Homo sapiens: one gene and its partner. The protein of the gene in region 1 interacts with the protein of each later gene in a pairwise test. Each region holds a gene or a part of one and is shown in the gene's direction. Other genes may lie near its edges.

Evidence for each region. Proteins that work in one complex are often made in the same cells at the same time.
Region 2: the proteins of DAB1 (region 1) and RBFOX2 interact in binary tests that used the Homo sapiens proteins (3 or more experiments, as listed by UniProt).

Annotation. Positions count from the first base shown.
Region 1 is NC_000001.11:57,015,061-57,022,060, reverse strand, and holds part of DAB1 (disabled homolog 1), read left to right. Parts: intron 1-3,708; exon of another isoform or gene 3,709-5,527; intron 5,528-6,629; coding exon 6,630-7,000. UniProt on the Homo sapiens protein: Signaling adapter of the reelin-mediated signaling pathway, which regulates the migration and differentiation of postmitotic neurons during brain development.
Region 2 is NC_000022.11:36,018,810-36,025,845, reverse strand, and holds part of RBFOX2 (RNA binding protein fox-1 homolog 2), read left to right. Parts: intron 1-7,036. UniProt on the Homo sapiens protein: RNA-binding protein that regulates alternative splicing events by binding to 5'-UGCAUGU-3' elements. Prevents binding of U2AF2 to the 3'-splice site.

The DNA of each region.
Region 1 (7,000 bases):
GAAGACAGGAAATAACATAAAAATAAGTAATTTGCATAATATATTTAAAAATGAGAAGTGATAGGGACAAAAGAAAATGCAGACCAGAGCATGGGGGCTTTTGAGTGCAGGCAGAGGGCAGGTGTAAGTGGAGCCCCTGTAGTCACGAGGGGCTCTTGCCTAGGTGACATGTGACAGGACTAGCAGGGACAGGAAAGTCTCAAGTAGGCATCAGAGTTCCAGGTACTCCAGGCAGAGGAATGACTTGGTCCCCCAAGTCTCCATTCCCTTCTCTATAATTGAGAAGATGGGACTAGATGCAATTTTATATCTCTTCCAGCCCTAACATTTGATTAAAAACACGCTGAGGACCTGCCTGGGTGTATTAGTCCATTCTCACGCTGCTGATAAAGACATACCTGACACCGGGTAATTTACAAAGGAAGGAGTTTTAATGGACTCACTGTTCCACATGGCTGGGTAGGCCTCACAATCATGGTGGAAGAAAAAGGAGGAGCAAAGGAATGTCTTACATGGTGGCAGACAAGAGGGCTTGTGTTCAGGGGAACTCCCCTTTATAAAACCATCAGATCTCATGAGACTTACTCACTACCATGAGAACGGTGTGGGGAAAACCACCCCCATGATTCATTTATCTCCACATGGGGATTATTACAATTCAAGGTGAGATTTGGGTGGGGACACAGCCAAACCATATCACTGGGTCAGTCACAGCACTGCTCTGGGCCCTCTTTCAAACCTGTACCAGATTAGGGACTTGGAAGACCTGGGTTTTAGTCTTGCTGCTTAACCAGCCACATTGGAAGCTATGGACAAGCCACTTCCACATATCCAGATTTCCTTTCTTTAGCTGCTAAAATTTTGATAGATTACCTCCAAGATTTCAACTTTTAGAACACGAGTCTAAAATTAATTTCAATTAGCATGTTTTTGCTTTCTGACTCTAGTTAATATGACAGAACTGGCTTCAGTTGGTGTTAAACTGTGTGCCCTATTTCTCCCTTAACTGGCCATAAAAATTTCTGTAGCTATTGAATCCCGATCTCCTTGTGACTAATTGTCCAGCCAGTGATAAGGAGACAGGGAAGTGAACTGGAGTATGTGATACAACGGATGGACTGGCTCCTGGGGGCTTTTGAATCTAATGGGCCAGGTTTGGATCCTGATTCAGCCATTATTTCTAAGCTTTAGACTCCTGGGCAAATTACTTGACCTGTCAGAGTCAGAGTTTCTTCATCTTTATAACTGAGTGTAAAATAATACTTACTTTGCAACAATATCAAGAGAATTAAATGAATCACTACATTAACTGCAGCTGTAGAAGTGGTATCACTACACACTGAAAAATGCTGGCACATCATCAATATTTAGTGTAGAATATGCTGTATTATTATGATTACTCTGATTTCTACAGTAGATGAATATATGTCCTGTTCTACCTATATTTTTTCCTTTACCTGGAAATTAGTGCCTGTAATAAAGTTTAGGTCTTCAGCCTCTTGACTGCTTATAGCAGACAGCAGGAGAATGGGTGGCCTGGAGAATGTACTATGTATGAACACAAGCTCTGCCACTAGCCAGCTGCACCATACTCAGATAAATATCTTCTGAGCCTCAGGGAACTTACCCCGTTTTAATGGGGATGATCATAATTCTACCTCATAGAGTTTTTCTAAGGATTGCATGAGTAAATGCACATTGTAAAATAGGTACAACAGTTCCTGGCAGTGCTTCCATCAGTAAGCACTCAACAGATGTTTGCTACATGGTTCTTCAGGAGCCTTGGATCTGCTATTCATACAGTGTGTAGCTGCATCAAATCTTTCCCTCATGGAGTTGCAATTTCTCCTATACAAATTAAAGAGATAGCAATCACACTCACCCCAGAGGCTTGTGGAAAGGATCACCTTCACAAAAATGTAAGCTGCACAGGGTAAGAATTTTTTTTTTTGGTGACTGTTTTGTTCTTTGTTTTGTCTCCACACACTAAAGCAGTGATTGGCACCTAGTGGAGGTATTTTTGAATGAATGAATCCATCAAATGAGATAATGTAGATAAGAGATGTCATACAAGTTCTGTATAAATGTTGGAGGAGTTCCTTCGTTTTTAGTGCTTTTCTTATATTTCAGTCTGCCTTTTTTTCTTTTTTCAAATAATGGGGGCATCCCCAGGTGTCAGCATCTGGCTGTAAATCACAATTTTCAACACTTTTTAAAAACCTAACTGTAAGGCAGCAAGGCAGGTGTTCCCTTTCACTCCACAGCAAGGAGATTTATGATTGCTCTGAACTTCACGGCATAAACAGATGCTCCTTAGTACCTCCTCCCTCCACTATTGGACATTAATTGTAAACAGTTAACAAGCTGTTAAGTGGCTGCAGTGGCAGCCACCAAGTGGCTCCCTCTGTCCAGTGCCACCACTGTCCTGCTGCTGACGTGTCCCTTCGCTCATGCACAAGACCATGTGGCCAGACAGCCTTAACTCACAGGCCGAGGAGAGCCAGCCTGCAGGGAACCCCTAGGAAAAGTGAGTGGGACCTGCAGGCTCCTAAACATGATACCCAATTACCCTGTGCTGCCTTTTTTCTTTTGAATATTGTACTTTGGTCTGGAGCAGATGGCATGAAGCCAGAGAGACATGCTAATAGCTCTCTCCAGAAAAGTGTGCACAGCCCATCTGTTAGCTCCTTGTGGAAAAAAAATAAAAGATGGGAGGGGAAAAAAAACCTGCCACCAACAGTAGAATCATCAGAGATCACAGCACTTATGCATTGTGGGTTTAATTAGACACCGGGAAAAATGCAGTGAATGTATTGACTAGGACTCATTTACCTTTATGTAGGGCCTTTCTCCCGTCCCAAACCATGCTAGGCAGGGTGGAAAGAGAGAGAGAATAAAGAGTTCCTGCCAGCAGGTGGTTTCTAGTCTCATCAGGGAAGATAGAACAACCAGGCAATTGCAAGGCAGTGTGACAAGTGTCATGATAGAGGTGAGCACAGGGTACTGTGGAAGCCCAGAGAAGGACCAGTGGTGCTGACAGGAGCAAGAAGCCATCCAACAGAGGTGATAGTGAACTGAGTCTCCAAGAGCAAATCAGGGTTAGACAGCACAGAAGCAGGGGGATGGCTTTCCAGGCAGATGGGCCAGCAGAGACAAGAGACAGCAGGTTGGGTTTTGTTTGCAAATGCTGGAGGGCAAGGTGCAGTGAGGATATGGATTGAAGATAGTGATGAAGAGGTGGAAGGAGCTGACCCCCAAGGACGCATAGCCAAGCTAAGACATCTGAGCCTTATACTTAAGACAATGAAGTACCATATATGCATTTAAAAACAGTCCTTCATGGCAGCAAGGAGGGTGGAATAAAAGCAAAGCCAAAAACAGGCTGATGTCAAGAGAGTGAAAACATCCACTCATTCACCAAAATGGGCATCAGGTCTTGGGTGATTGAATCTGTGGGTAGTTCTCCACCTGCAGACCCAGCACCCCCTTCTTATTACAAATATTTGCAATACCTCCTTTCACACCTTGAAATGAATTTCATAGATAATGTAGTCTAGCTACACAATTTTTCAAAATGAATATAATTCTCTAACTGTAGTATAAGGCAGAAAGAAAAGAAAGAGAACTTGTAATAAAAATATATGTATTTAAATAAGGAAATACTCAGGCGTGAGCACACTAGAAGACATAAGAGTCAGATGTATATACCTGTAAGTAGAATCACTACTGAAAGCCACAGCTGTAAGTCCAGGCTAATACAGAAGTGTCATGTGGCTACACCACCATGAGAAGCGCTTCTGTCAGGGATGTCAGGCACTGCCATTTTCCAAAATAGTGAACACCTTTTGACAGTGTTCCAAACCAAAAATACAGTCTTCTCTCCTGTGCACAGTTGTTGAATTCCTGGAAAATTAAATGCATTAAAATCAAATGCAAAGATAACTGAATTTCCATGTAATTCAAAGTCGATTCTAGGTGCAAATGATCATAAACAGGATGTGGAATAATGCTTTGTCGTACGCATTGGTCTCAGACATAATAGGATGTCTACTGTCAATGCTTGGGCCTCCTAAATGCCAGTAGTGCCACCCCCTCCTCTTGTGACAACCGAAACACACCCCACAAATTTTCTAGCCACCCCTAGGGGGCAGTAGCACTCCCACTGAGAACCACTGGGCCATATCAAAGTAAACCAGAAAACAAGACAGAGTTGCCGGATTCTTCATCTGTTGGTAGATTTAAGCCACTACATTATTATGCCATGGGCGAGGCAAGCTAAGCAAGCTTCACGTTTGAAATTTCAGCTCCAGGGCCTCTTCACCCCTCTTGTTTCAGTGCAGTTGGACAAAGTGGTCTTACAAGATATTCTCCATTTTGTTTGTTGACATCATTGTTTTATTCCGCAGAAGTGTTTAACACTGCGAGATTAATCAGCAAGAAGCCCAGGTGTCCTGTTGGTGCCTCTCTGGAGCCTCCTGTTAGGGAAGCACGGCATGAGAGGAAATGGGCACCTTGCGAGGAAAATGACCAGGCCTTGAATATTGGCTCTAGCCTGTATCAGTCAGATGAAGGCGGGTACATCTGTGACTTGAGCATGGAGTGAGGCACCCTGCATTGGATCTCTCTGGGCTCACAAGAGTCAGTGAGATGACTCATAATGTCATCAATGCCGTAACGCCCACCCATTGTCCCTTTGGAAGTTGCTAGGATACTCTGCATCCATTCCTCTTTTTTTCCTGGTACACTGCCTCGGTACATTCCTACTGACAGCCATGGAAAGGCTAGTTTTGAGAGGCCAGGCAAAGCTAGCTTCTCTGTTCTCTGCTCTGCCCAGCCTGAGAACTTGTCTCTCAGGCTCAACTGCACATAGAGGTGGCCATTGTGTCCCCTGAGAAGGGTGGGGACCCCTGGAAGCACATGGGAGTTTCCTGCAGGCCTGCAGTATTCTAATACAATCAAATAGAAGGCAAGGAGGTCTATTAACTGCAAAGATCAGAAATTGGTCTTGGCCATCTGGGTGAGGCAGTGTGTGGCACAAAGGAAGGAACCCTGGCTTTGGGGGGACAGACAACCTCAGTTTGACCCTGCTCCTACTTCATACAACCTGTATGACCCTGAGCAAGTTGCTTTTCCTTGAGCACCAATTTCTTCATCCCTAAAATACAGATAATAATACCTACCCTGCCGGGATTTCGTGAAGACATAAAACACCTACTAGTGTACGTGGCGTGTTGTAGGCATTTAATAAGTGGAGCTTGTTGCTGTTACTATGTTACTATTATTATTATAACAAGTGTTGCTTGTGCTCCTGTTGAAATGTATATGTCTTACCTAAAAAGAATAATACAGTGAACAATTATCATGGTAATACGTGTGAGTACAGGATGTGGGGTTTTGCAGTGTGTAACCTGTACTGATGCATGAGGTGCCCCTGAGTGGACAATAACTTTCTTTCTTTTTTTTTTTTTAGAGACAAGTGTCTCACTCTATTACCCAGGCTGAAGTGCAGTAGGGTGATCATAGCTCAGTGCTGCTTCAAACTCTTGGGCTCAAGTGATCCTCCCGCCTCAGCCTCCTGAGTGCCGAGACTATGGAACTCTGAGCATGTGCCACCATTCCTGACTAATTTTTTAAAATTTTTGGTAGAGAAGAGGTCTTGTTATGTTGCTAAAGCTGGTCTCAAACTCCAAGCCTCAAGCAATCCTCCCACCTGGACCTCCCAAAGTGCTAGGATTACAAGCATAAGCCACCACATCTGGCCCTATTTTTTTTTTATTCTCTAAAATTGGAATAAGAATAATAATACAGAAATCATGCATAATACCTCTCGCTACCATTTATTACATGGCTCTTGTATATTAAGCAACGTAATAAGTAACTTTCTAGCCTCTATCTAATCCAAACCATACTACTAACTAACATTTACTGAATGTTGATCCTGTGTCAGGTACAATACTCCACATATTAAATATGTACTATCAATTAATCTTCAAATCAACCCAGTGAGATAGAAGGTGTTTATACCCATTTTACAAATAAAGTCATGGAGCCCTAGACAGATTTAAGAACTGCTCCCCAAATTACATAGATAAGAAGTGGCCATTTGAATTTTAACCTAGGTCTCTAAAACTCCAACATTCAGATTCTTACTCACTCTGCACACTGCCTAAGTCCTGTGAAGGAAGGTATTATAACCTGGTTTTACCACAAAGAGTCAGACTCTTAGAGAGCTTATGCAATTGAGAGGGTCCTAAGTGCAGCAGGAAGAGGAGGCAAGGAGAAAACCCAGGAGGCCTGCCTTCCATCCTTCTGCCCTGTCCCTGAGACACACAGCTTCTGAGGCTATGAGACTTTAGAAACTTTTAGCAACTACAGAAATGTGATTACTAGCATTCTAGTTTTTGCTTACAGATCATCTCCTCAGAGAGGATTTCCCTGACCACTTCTCTAGGATATAGGCTCTATGACAGCAAGGACTTTGTCTTGTTCATCTTGGCATCCCCAGTCCCTGGCACACAGTCTGGCACTTAGTTGGTGCTTGATACATTTCTGTCAATTACCTGAGTCCATGCATCCTTCTTTCCCAGGACACCAGGGAAACACCTGACTCTCCTTTTTCATTCTCCCAGGTTACGTTGCAATGGGCGCTGTCCTCCCGTCCTTCTGGGGTCAGCAGCCCCTCGTCCAACAGCAGATGGTCATGGGTGCCCAGCCACCAGTCGCTCAGGTGATGCCGGGGGCTCAGCCCATCGCATGGGGCCAGCCGGGTCTCTTTCCTGCCACTCAGCAGCCCTGGCCAACTGTGGCCGGGCAGTTTCCGCCAGCCGCCTTCATGCCCACACAAACTGTTATGCCTTTGCCAGCTGCCATGTTCCAAGGTCCCCTCACCCCCCTTGCCACCGTCCCAGGCACGAGTGACTCCACCAGGTCAAGTCCACAGACCGACAAGCCCAGGCAGAAAATGGGCAAAGAAACGTTTAAGGATTTCCAGATGGCCCAG
Region 2 (7,036 bases), on another chromosome or scaffold:
GTAAAATAAAGTATGTGTACAAGATGATTTCCCTTGTAATCCACCCACCTCGGCCTCCCAAAGTGCTGGGATTACAGGTGTGAGGCACCGCACCCGGCCAAGTTCTAAGTTACCTTCTAAAAGTTATAAGTCCAGTTCACTGTCCTTAAGGTGCATGCAATCTATGTGGGGAGACAAATGGGCGAAAAGTTTTTTTTAAAGAAGCGTGCATTTTTAAAGAAGTGTGAGAGTATTACATGAATATACTTAATGTTTATTCATTGAACTAACATTTATTAAGCAGCTGCTACATCCCAGGCACTGTTTTAACCCTAAGAGATATAATAGTGAACAACAACAACAAAAAACCCTTGCTGTCATGGAACTAATATTGAATGGAAAGAGACATCTAATAAATCAACAACTATAATTGTGTGGTGATAAGGGCTAAAAAGAAAAAGCAGGGAAAGGGAGAGATGGAAAGGGAGAGAATGAAGATGGTTACGGAAGGGCTTTAAGATAGATGGCCTATGAGTGAAGTGAGGTAATGGGCCATTCAGATGCTTTCGGAAAGAGGGTTCAGGTAGAGGAGGTGAGGGTGCACAGGCATTGAGAAAGACTGCTTGGTTTGTTTGGAAACAGGAGACCAATGTATTAATAGCTGGAGCAGAGAGAGCAAGGGCAGGTAGTCTTAGGAGATGGTATCAGTGGTTTAGAAATATCTATAGGCCCTATGTAAATACACACTTTAAAAATCTTAGCCGGGCGCAGTGGCTCACGCCTGTAATCCCAGCACTTTGGGAGACTGAGGCGGGTGGATCGCCTGAGATCAGGAGTTCGAGACCAGCCTGGCCAACATAGTGAAACCCGTCTCTACTAAAAATACAAAAAATTAGCCAGGCGTGGTGGCAGGCGCCTGTAATCCCAGCTACTAGGGAGGCTGAGGCAGGAGAATCACTTGAACTCGGGAGGCGGAGGTTGCAGTTAGCTGAGGTTGCGCCATTGCACTCCAGGCTGGGCAACAAGAGCGAAAATCTGTCTCAAAAAAATAAAAAAAATCTTATCGTAGCCAGTGTTTTGGGTATGTGGGTTTGTCTTAAAGTACACGTCTTTTTTTTCTTTTTTTTTGAGATGGAGTCTCACTGTTGCCCAGGCTGGAGTGCAGTGGCTTGATCTCAGCTCACTGCAACCTCTGCCTCCTGGGTTCAAGCAATTCTTATGCCTCAGCCTCCTGAGTAGCTGGGATTACAGGCATGTGCCACCACACCCCGCTAATTTTTGTATTTATAGTAGAGATGAGGTTTCACCATGTTGGCCAGGCTGGTCTCGAACTCCTGACCTCAGGTGATCGCCTGCGTTGGCCTCCCAAAGTGCTGAGATTACAGGCATGAGCCACTGCACCTGGCCTGTTTTCTTAACACGTTTTCTAACTCCTTTTGTGAAGCCTTCCCTGACAGCTTAGTTCACACCATTCCGATCCTACTCTTGCCTCTTGGTATATTGATGCTTAATTGTGTGTCATCTTTTATTGTCCCTTAATTGTTTTATTATTCTTGTTTCACTGCTAAGATTGTAAGCTTCTAAAAGATAGGAACTATATTTCCTTTGTATTTATCCTTCGTAATACCTAACAGTTTTGGGTACTTGGTAAGTGCTCAATGCCTGTTAAATTGAAATTGAAATTTACCTTTTACAGATAGTTAAGGATTAAGAAAAATTGTGAAATTCCAGAGTGAGGGTATCATCACAGAATTTTCCAGGCACTTTGAATGTCAAAGGATTAACCGCTTTTTATAGAATAAGTTCATTTACTGGGGTCATTCCCAAGGCTGCTTACTAAATGGAGCTGTAGTGCTAAGCGTTAGATTCCAAAGTTGAATCTTGTTAAGTTGTACCACTAAGCTTTTGGAGTAAATCATCACTTACCAAAATGGAGTTTAGGAAACGCCAGAGAGTCTGTGATGCTTTTGTTATAATCCTTAGGCTCAGAAGGAACCCTAGGAGAAAGAGAGGAAGGGTCGGTGCTTTCAAAGGCAGTATACAGAAACTTGATGTAGGTGGAAGAGGAGTCAGTGCAGCCCTGGAAAGAGTACAGAAATAGAGAAACGTGAACCAGAGAGTAGGAGGGAAGTGACAAACTCAACTGGAAAGCTGATGTACAGTTTGAGAAATGTAGTTAAAGAGAGTACTTGGAAATACTGTACTCAAAGTTTGTGGGAAGTTAAATGAGTTAAATATAGGGCTATTAGAGGTTCATTTCACTTTAAGTTTAATATGTATGAAATTTACGCTCTATACAATGTAGTGGGGAATGAATTCTTTTGGTCAGCTTTTCTAGTGAACAATTTGATTCATAAAAATTTTATTTTTGTGCAGTTTTCTAAGAGTTTAGCTGCTGTATAAGGTAAGATGTACCTTATTACTTATAGCTTTCAGCAGAATTCTTTGTGTCAGTGAAATGTTGATATGGTATAATTATTATATGGCCAAGTAACCGCTTCTCACCATAGAGTCATAAATCCAGTTTAGCCAAGTGGGTTCAGCAGTTATTCCTATTAGCAGCTGATTCTAGTAGTAAGATGACTTTCTTTCAGGTTTCAGGGAAGGGGTTCCAGATAGCCTGAAGTTGCTTTGTAGATGCTGTGTTTATTGAAGTAGTTTATCTTCCCATTTGCTTATTTATGGGCTTATTTCCTCATAGGTGGATGTCTCTTTGTGCCCTCATTTGGTATTTGGTGCTGAAACTAAGCATGGTGCTACCATTCAAGAAGAGTTATAAAAATATTGTGTTTTTTTTTTCTTGCAAGTAATTTCATGAACAATATTTCACTGAAATTACTGAATTTTTCATCTCTCCCTGTCCCAGTGTCCTTGGGCTGCCACAGCAAAATACCATAGACTGGGTGGCTTAAACAACAGACATTTATTTCTCACAGTTTTGGAGGCTGGGAAGTCCAAGATGAAGGTGCCAGCAGATTTCATGTCTGGTGAGGGCCCACCTTCTGGCTTGTGGATAGCTGTCTTCTTGCTGTGTGTTCACATGGCCTTTCCTTTGTCTGTGCCCTGGGGGAGAGAGAGTCAGTGGTCTCTTCCTCTTCTTATAAGGGCACTCATTTATCATGTAGTTCCCACCCTCATGACCCAATCTGAAGCTAATTCTAGAGGTCCTACCTCCAAATACCATTACACTGGGGTTAGGGCTTCAACATACGAAATTTAGAGGGACACAGACATTAAGCCTGTAACACTACCAGAGTGGTAAATATTGTAGATGGAGAAACTGAGGAACAGTCATGTAAAACTTGTTGCTTTTTTCCCCATGTCTTACAAGGAAGTCTGCAGATGTAAAACTGGAAATGTATTTGAGAAGGAGAAAGTCAGATCTGATTTCAAAGTAGAATTATTCTTCAGGGTGACTCAAGAGATTAGCTTGAGTTGAGTTTGTCTCCCAACTCCCTCCCATTTTCTAGCTACTCTGTCATTTTTTTTTCACTATCACGCTGACATGTGAACACAACAGAAGCTAACTAGAAATTTAACTTTCATTTTGCTGTAAAGCAGACTGGTGCAGACAGGCCTCAAGTTTACAGGACTGCTGAGAAAGAAATTGAGTTATGCTACTTTGTATAAACAAGAATGTTGCTAGTGAATCTCTAGTTTAACATCTCTCAGGCCTTCAGTTTGATGTCAGGCTTTAATAATTTGTAGAAAAAGACAGTCATTTTAGTAAGCAGATTTCTTTGAATTTTTGTTGATATACATTTGTAAAGCATAGTAAACATCTTTATTCTGGGGCAAATGTGCACTTCCTTCAAAGGCAGGAGGGAAGAACCACAGACATGATTGGAAGGAAATGGCAGTAATTGGAGCATGAGCAGACAGATGGAGTGAGGGATGGTGAGTACATTTGGTGTTTTAGGTGGCCCCTAGGAGTATTGAGTTTCTTCTTATTCTCCTCTACAACCCCAATACAAGCAGGCAGCTTACATGGCTAAGGTTTCATTATCTAATCCATCACAGATCAGCTTGAATAAACCCATTGGCTGATGCTGATCTAGTTAGGAAAGTAGCAAAGCTGCTTGAGCCAGGATTGGGACAAATCGGATCAGAACTGCCATGTGAATCCTGGACGCATTTCTGTAATTTGGGTGGGCAAAGTAGTTTGGGAAGTCATTTACTCAAGAGAATGAGCAGTCAGCCATGAGTTTTTTCAAACATTGTCTTAGGGACTCTGAGGGGAAAGTGTGTGGAGGATTTGAGATATTTCTCTGGAGGATAGCCAGATTGCTTTGATTATTTGAGTCTGAACATTTTTTGGTCACTAATGCTCAGAAGTGACCTTTTTTTTTTTAGTAGCATTTGGAGATTCCAGTTGTGATCGTTTGTCACTTTTGTGAGTGATCCCTTAATCTGAGACCGTAGGATATATGTCCCTTCTCTGTTTTTATTTTATTTTTATTTTTTATTTTTATTATACTTCAAGTTCTAGGGTACGTGTGCACAACGTGCGGGTTTGTTATGTATGTATACATGTGCCATGTTGGTGTGGCTGCACCCATTAACTCGTCATTTACATCAGGTGTATTTCCTAATGTTATCCCTCCCCCCTCCCCCCACCCCAGGACAGGCCCCATTGTGTGATGTTCCCCACCCTGTGTCCAAGTGTTCTCATTGTTTAATTCTCACCTATGAGTGAGAACATGCAGTGTTTGGTTTTCTGTCCTTGTGATAGTTTGCTCAGAATGATGGTTTCCAGCTTCATCCATGTTCCTACAAAGGACGTGAACTCATCCTTTTTTAGGGCTGCATGGTATTCCATGGTGTATATGTGCCACATTTTCTTAATCCAATTTATCATTGATGGGCATTTGGGTTGGTTCCAAGTCTTTGCTATTGTGAATAGTGCTGCAGTAAACATACGTGTGCATGTGTCTTTATAGCAGCATGATTTATAATCCTTTGGATATATACCCAGTAATGGGATGGCTGCGTCAAATGGTATTTCTAATTCTAGATCCTTGAGGAATCGCCACACTGTCTTCCACAATGGTTGAACTAGTTTACAGTCCCACCAACAGTGTAAAAGTGTTCCTATTTCTCCACATCCTCTCCAGCACCTGTTGTTTCCTGACTTTTTAATGATCGCCATTCTAACTGTTGTGAGATGGTATCTCATTGTGGTTTTGATTTGCATTTCTCTGATGACCAGTGATGATGAGCATTTTTTCATGTGTCTGTTGGCTGCGTAAATTTCTTTTGAGAAGTGTCTGTTCATATCCTTTGCCCACTTTTTGGTGGGATTGTTTGATTTTTTCTTGTAAATTTGTTTGAGTTCATTGTAGATTCTGGATATTAGCCCTTTGTCAGATAGGTAGATTGTAAAAATTTTCTCCCATTCTGTAGGTTGCCTGTTCACTCTGATGGTGGTTTCTTTTGCTGTGCAGAAGCTCTTTAGTTTAATTAGATCCCATTTGTCAATTTTGGCTTTTGTTGCCATTGCTTTTGGTGTTTTAGTCATGAAGTCCTTGCCCATGCCTATGTCCTGAATGGTATTGCCTAGGTTTTCTTCTAGGGTTTTTATGCTTTTAGGTCTAACATTTAAATCTTTAATCCGTCTTGAATTAATTTTTGTATAAGGTGTAAGGAAGGGATCCAGTTTCAGCTTTCTGCATATGGCTAGCCAGTTTTCCCAGCACCGTTTATTAGATAGGGAATCCTTTCCCCATTTCTTGTTTTTTGTCAGGTTTGTCAAAGATCAGGTGGTTGTAGATGTGTGGTATTATTTCTGAGGGCTCTGTTCTGTTCCATTGGTCTATATCTCTGTCTTGGTACCAGTACCATGCTGTTTTGGTTACTATAGCCTTGTAGTATAATTTGAAGTCAGGTAGCGTGATGCCCCCAGCTTTGTTCTTTTGGCTTAGGATTGTCTTGGCAATGTGGGCTCTTTTTTGGTTCTATATGAACTTCAAAGTAGTTTTTTCCAATTCTGTGAAGAAAGTCATTGGTAGCTTGATGGGGATGGCATTGAATCTATAGTTTACCTTGGGCAGTATGGCCATTTTCATGATATTGATTCTTCCTATCCATGAGTCCCTTCTCTGTTTTTAAAGGGGAGATATTTTTATTACTAACCTTAATATGTAATCATATTTGTTATCCATATATACTTGAAATATGGTGTAGTAAATAAACACCATTTAGAGCTTCTCATTTTGGGATTTGAATCCTGGCTTCTCCATTTACCAAATGAATGAGCTATTCAACATCTCTGAGCTCCTGCTCACACATCTGTGAACTGGGAGAATTAATGTATACTCTTATAAACCACTGTAATGAGAACTGAGATTCTTTAAGGTGCCTATCAAGGAACCCAGCACTACATGTTTATTTCTTGCTTTCCTTATATCCTGCTATACAGCACTCACTAACTTCCTGCTTACTGTTTAATCTGCATGGAGTGGTTAATGTGCTTCTGATTGATTAAGTGCCAGAGTTGGGAACTACTAGAGATGAGCAGTGTGTTAAAGGGGAAACCTCATTTGCTCATTATCCAGGGTGGAGGAGTGGAATGAACTGGGTCATTGTGGTCTCTCTTGTCAGAGGAAGGGGAGACAATTCTTTGCTAAGGAGTGAAAGGACTGCTGCAGTATCACAGTGTCTGCAGGGGGGATGTGGATTTCTTAGAACCCGTGGGATCTCTGTTGGGAGGGTGGGTGACAGATTCACTGGCTGTTTTAGTGGTACATGGAAGGCAGGAACAGTAAAAATGTCGTGTTTCAAATTTTATAAGTTTTGTTACGTATGTTGGTTCAAAAGTGGCACTTTTTGTTCTCATTTTGTCTATGGAAATTGAGCTGGGATGCCTTTGTGTTGTCTCTTGTGGTCCCTTTTCAGTCTCTTCAAACCCGCTCTCCAGACTGCTAACACAGTGATCTATCTAAAAGAGCCAATCTGGCCAGGTGCGGTGGCTCATGCCTGTAATCCCAGCACTTTGGGAGGCTGAGGCGGGCAGATGACTTGAGGTCAGAAGTTCGAGACCAGCCTGGCCAACATGATG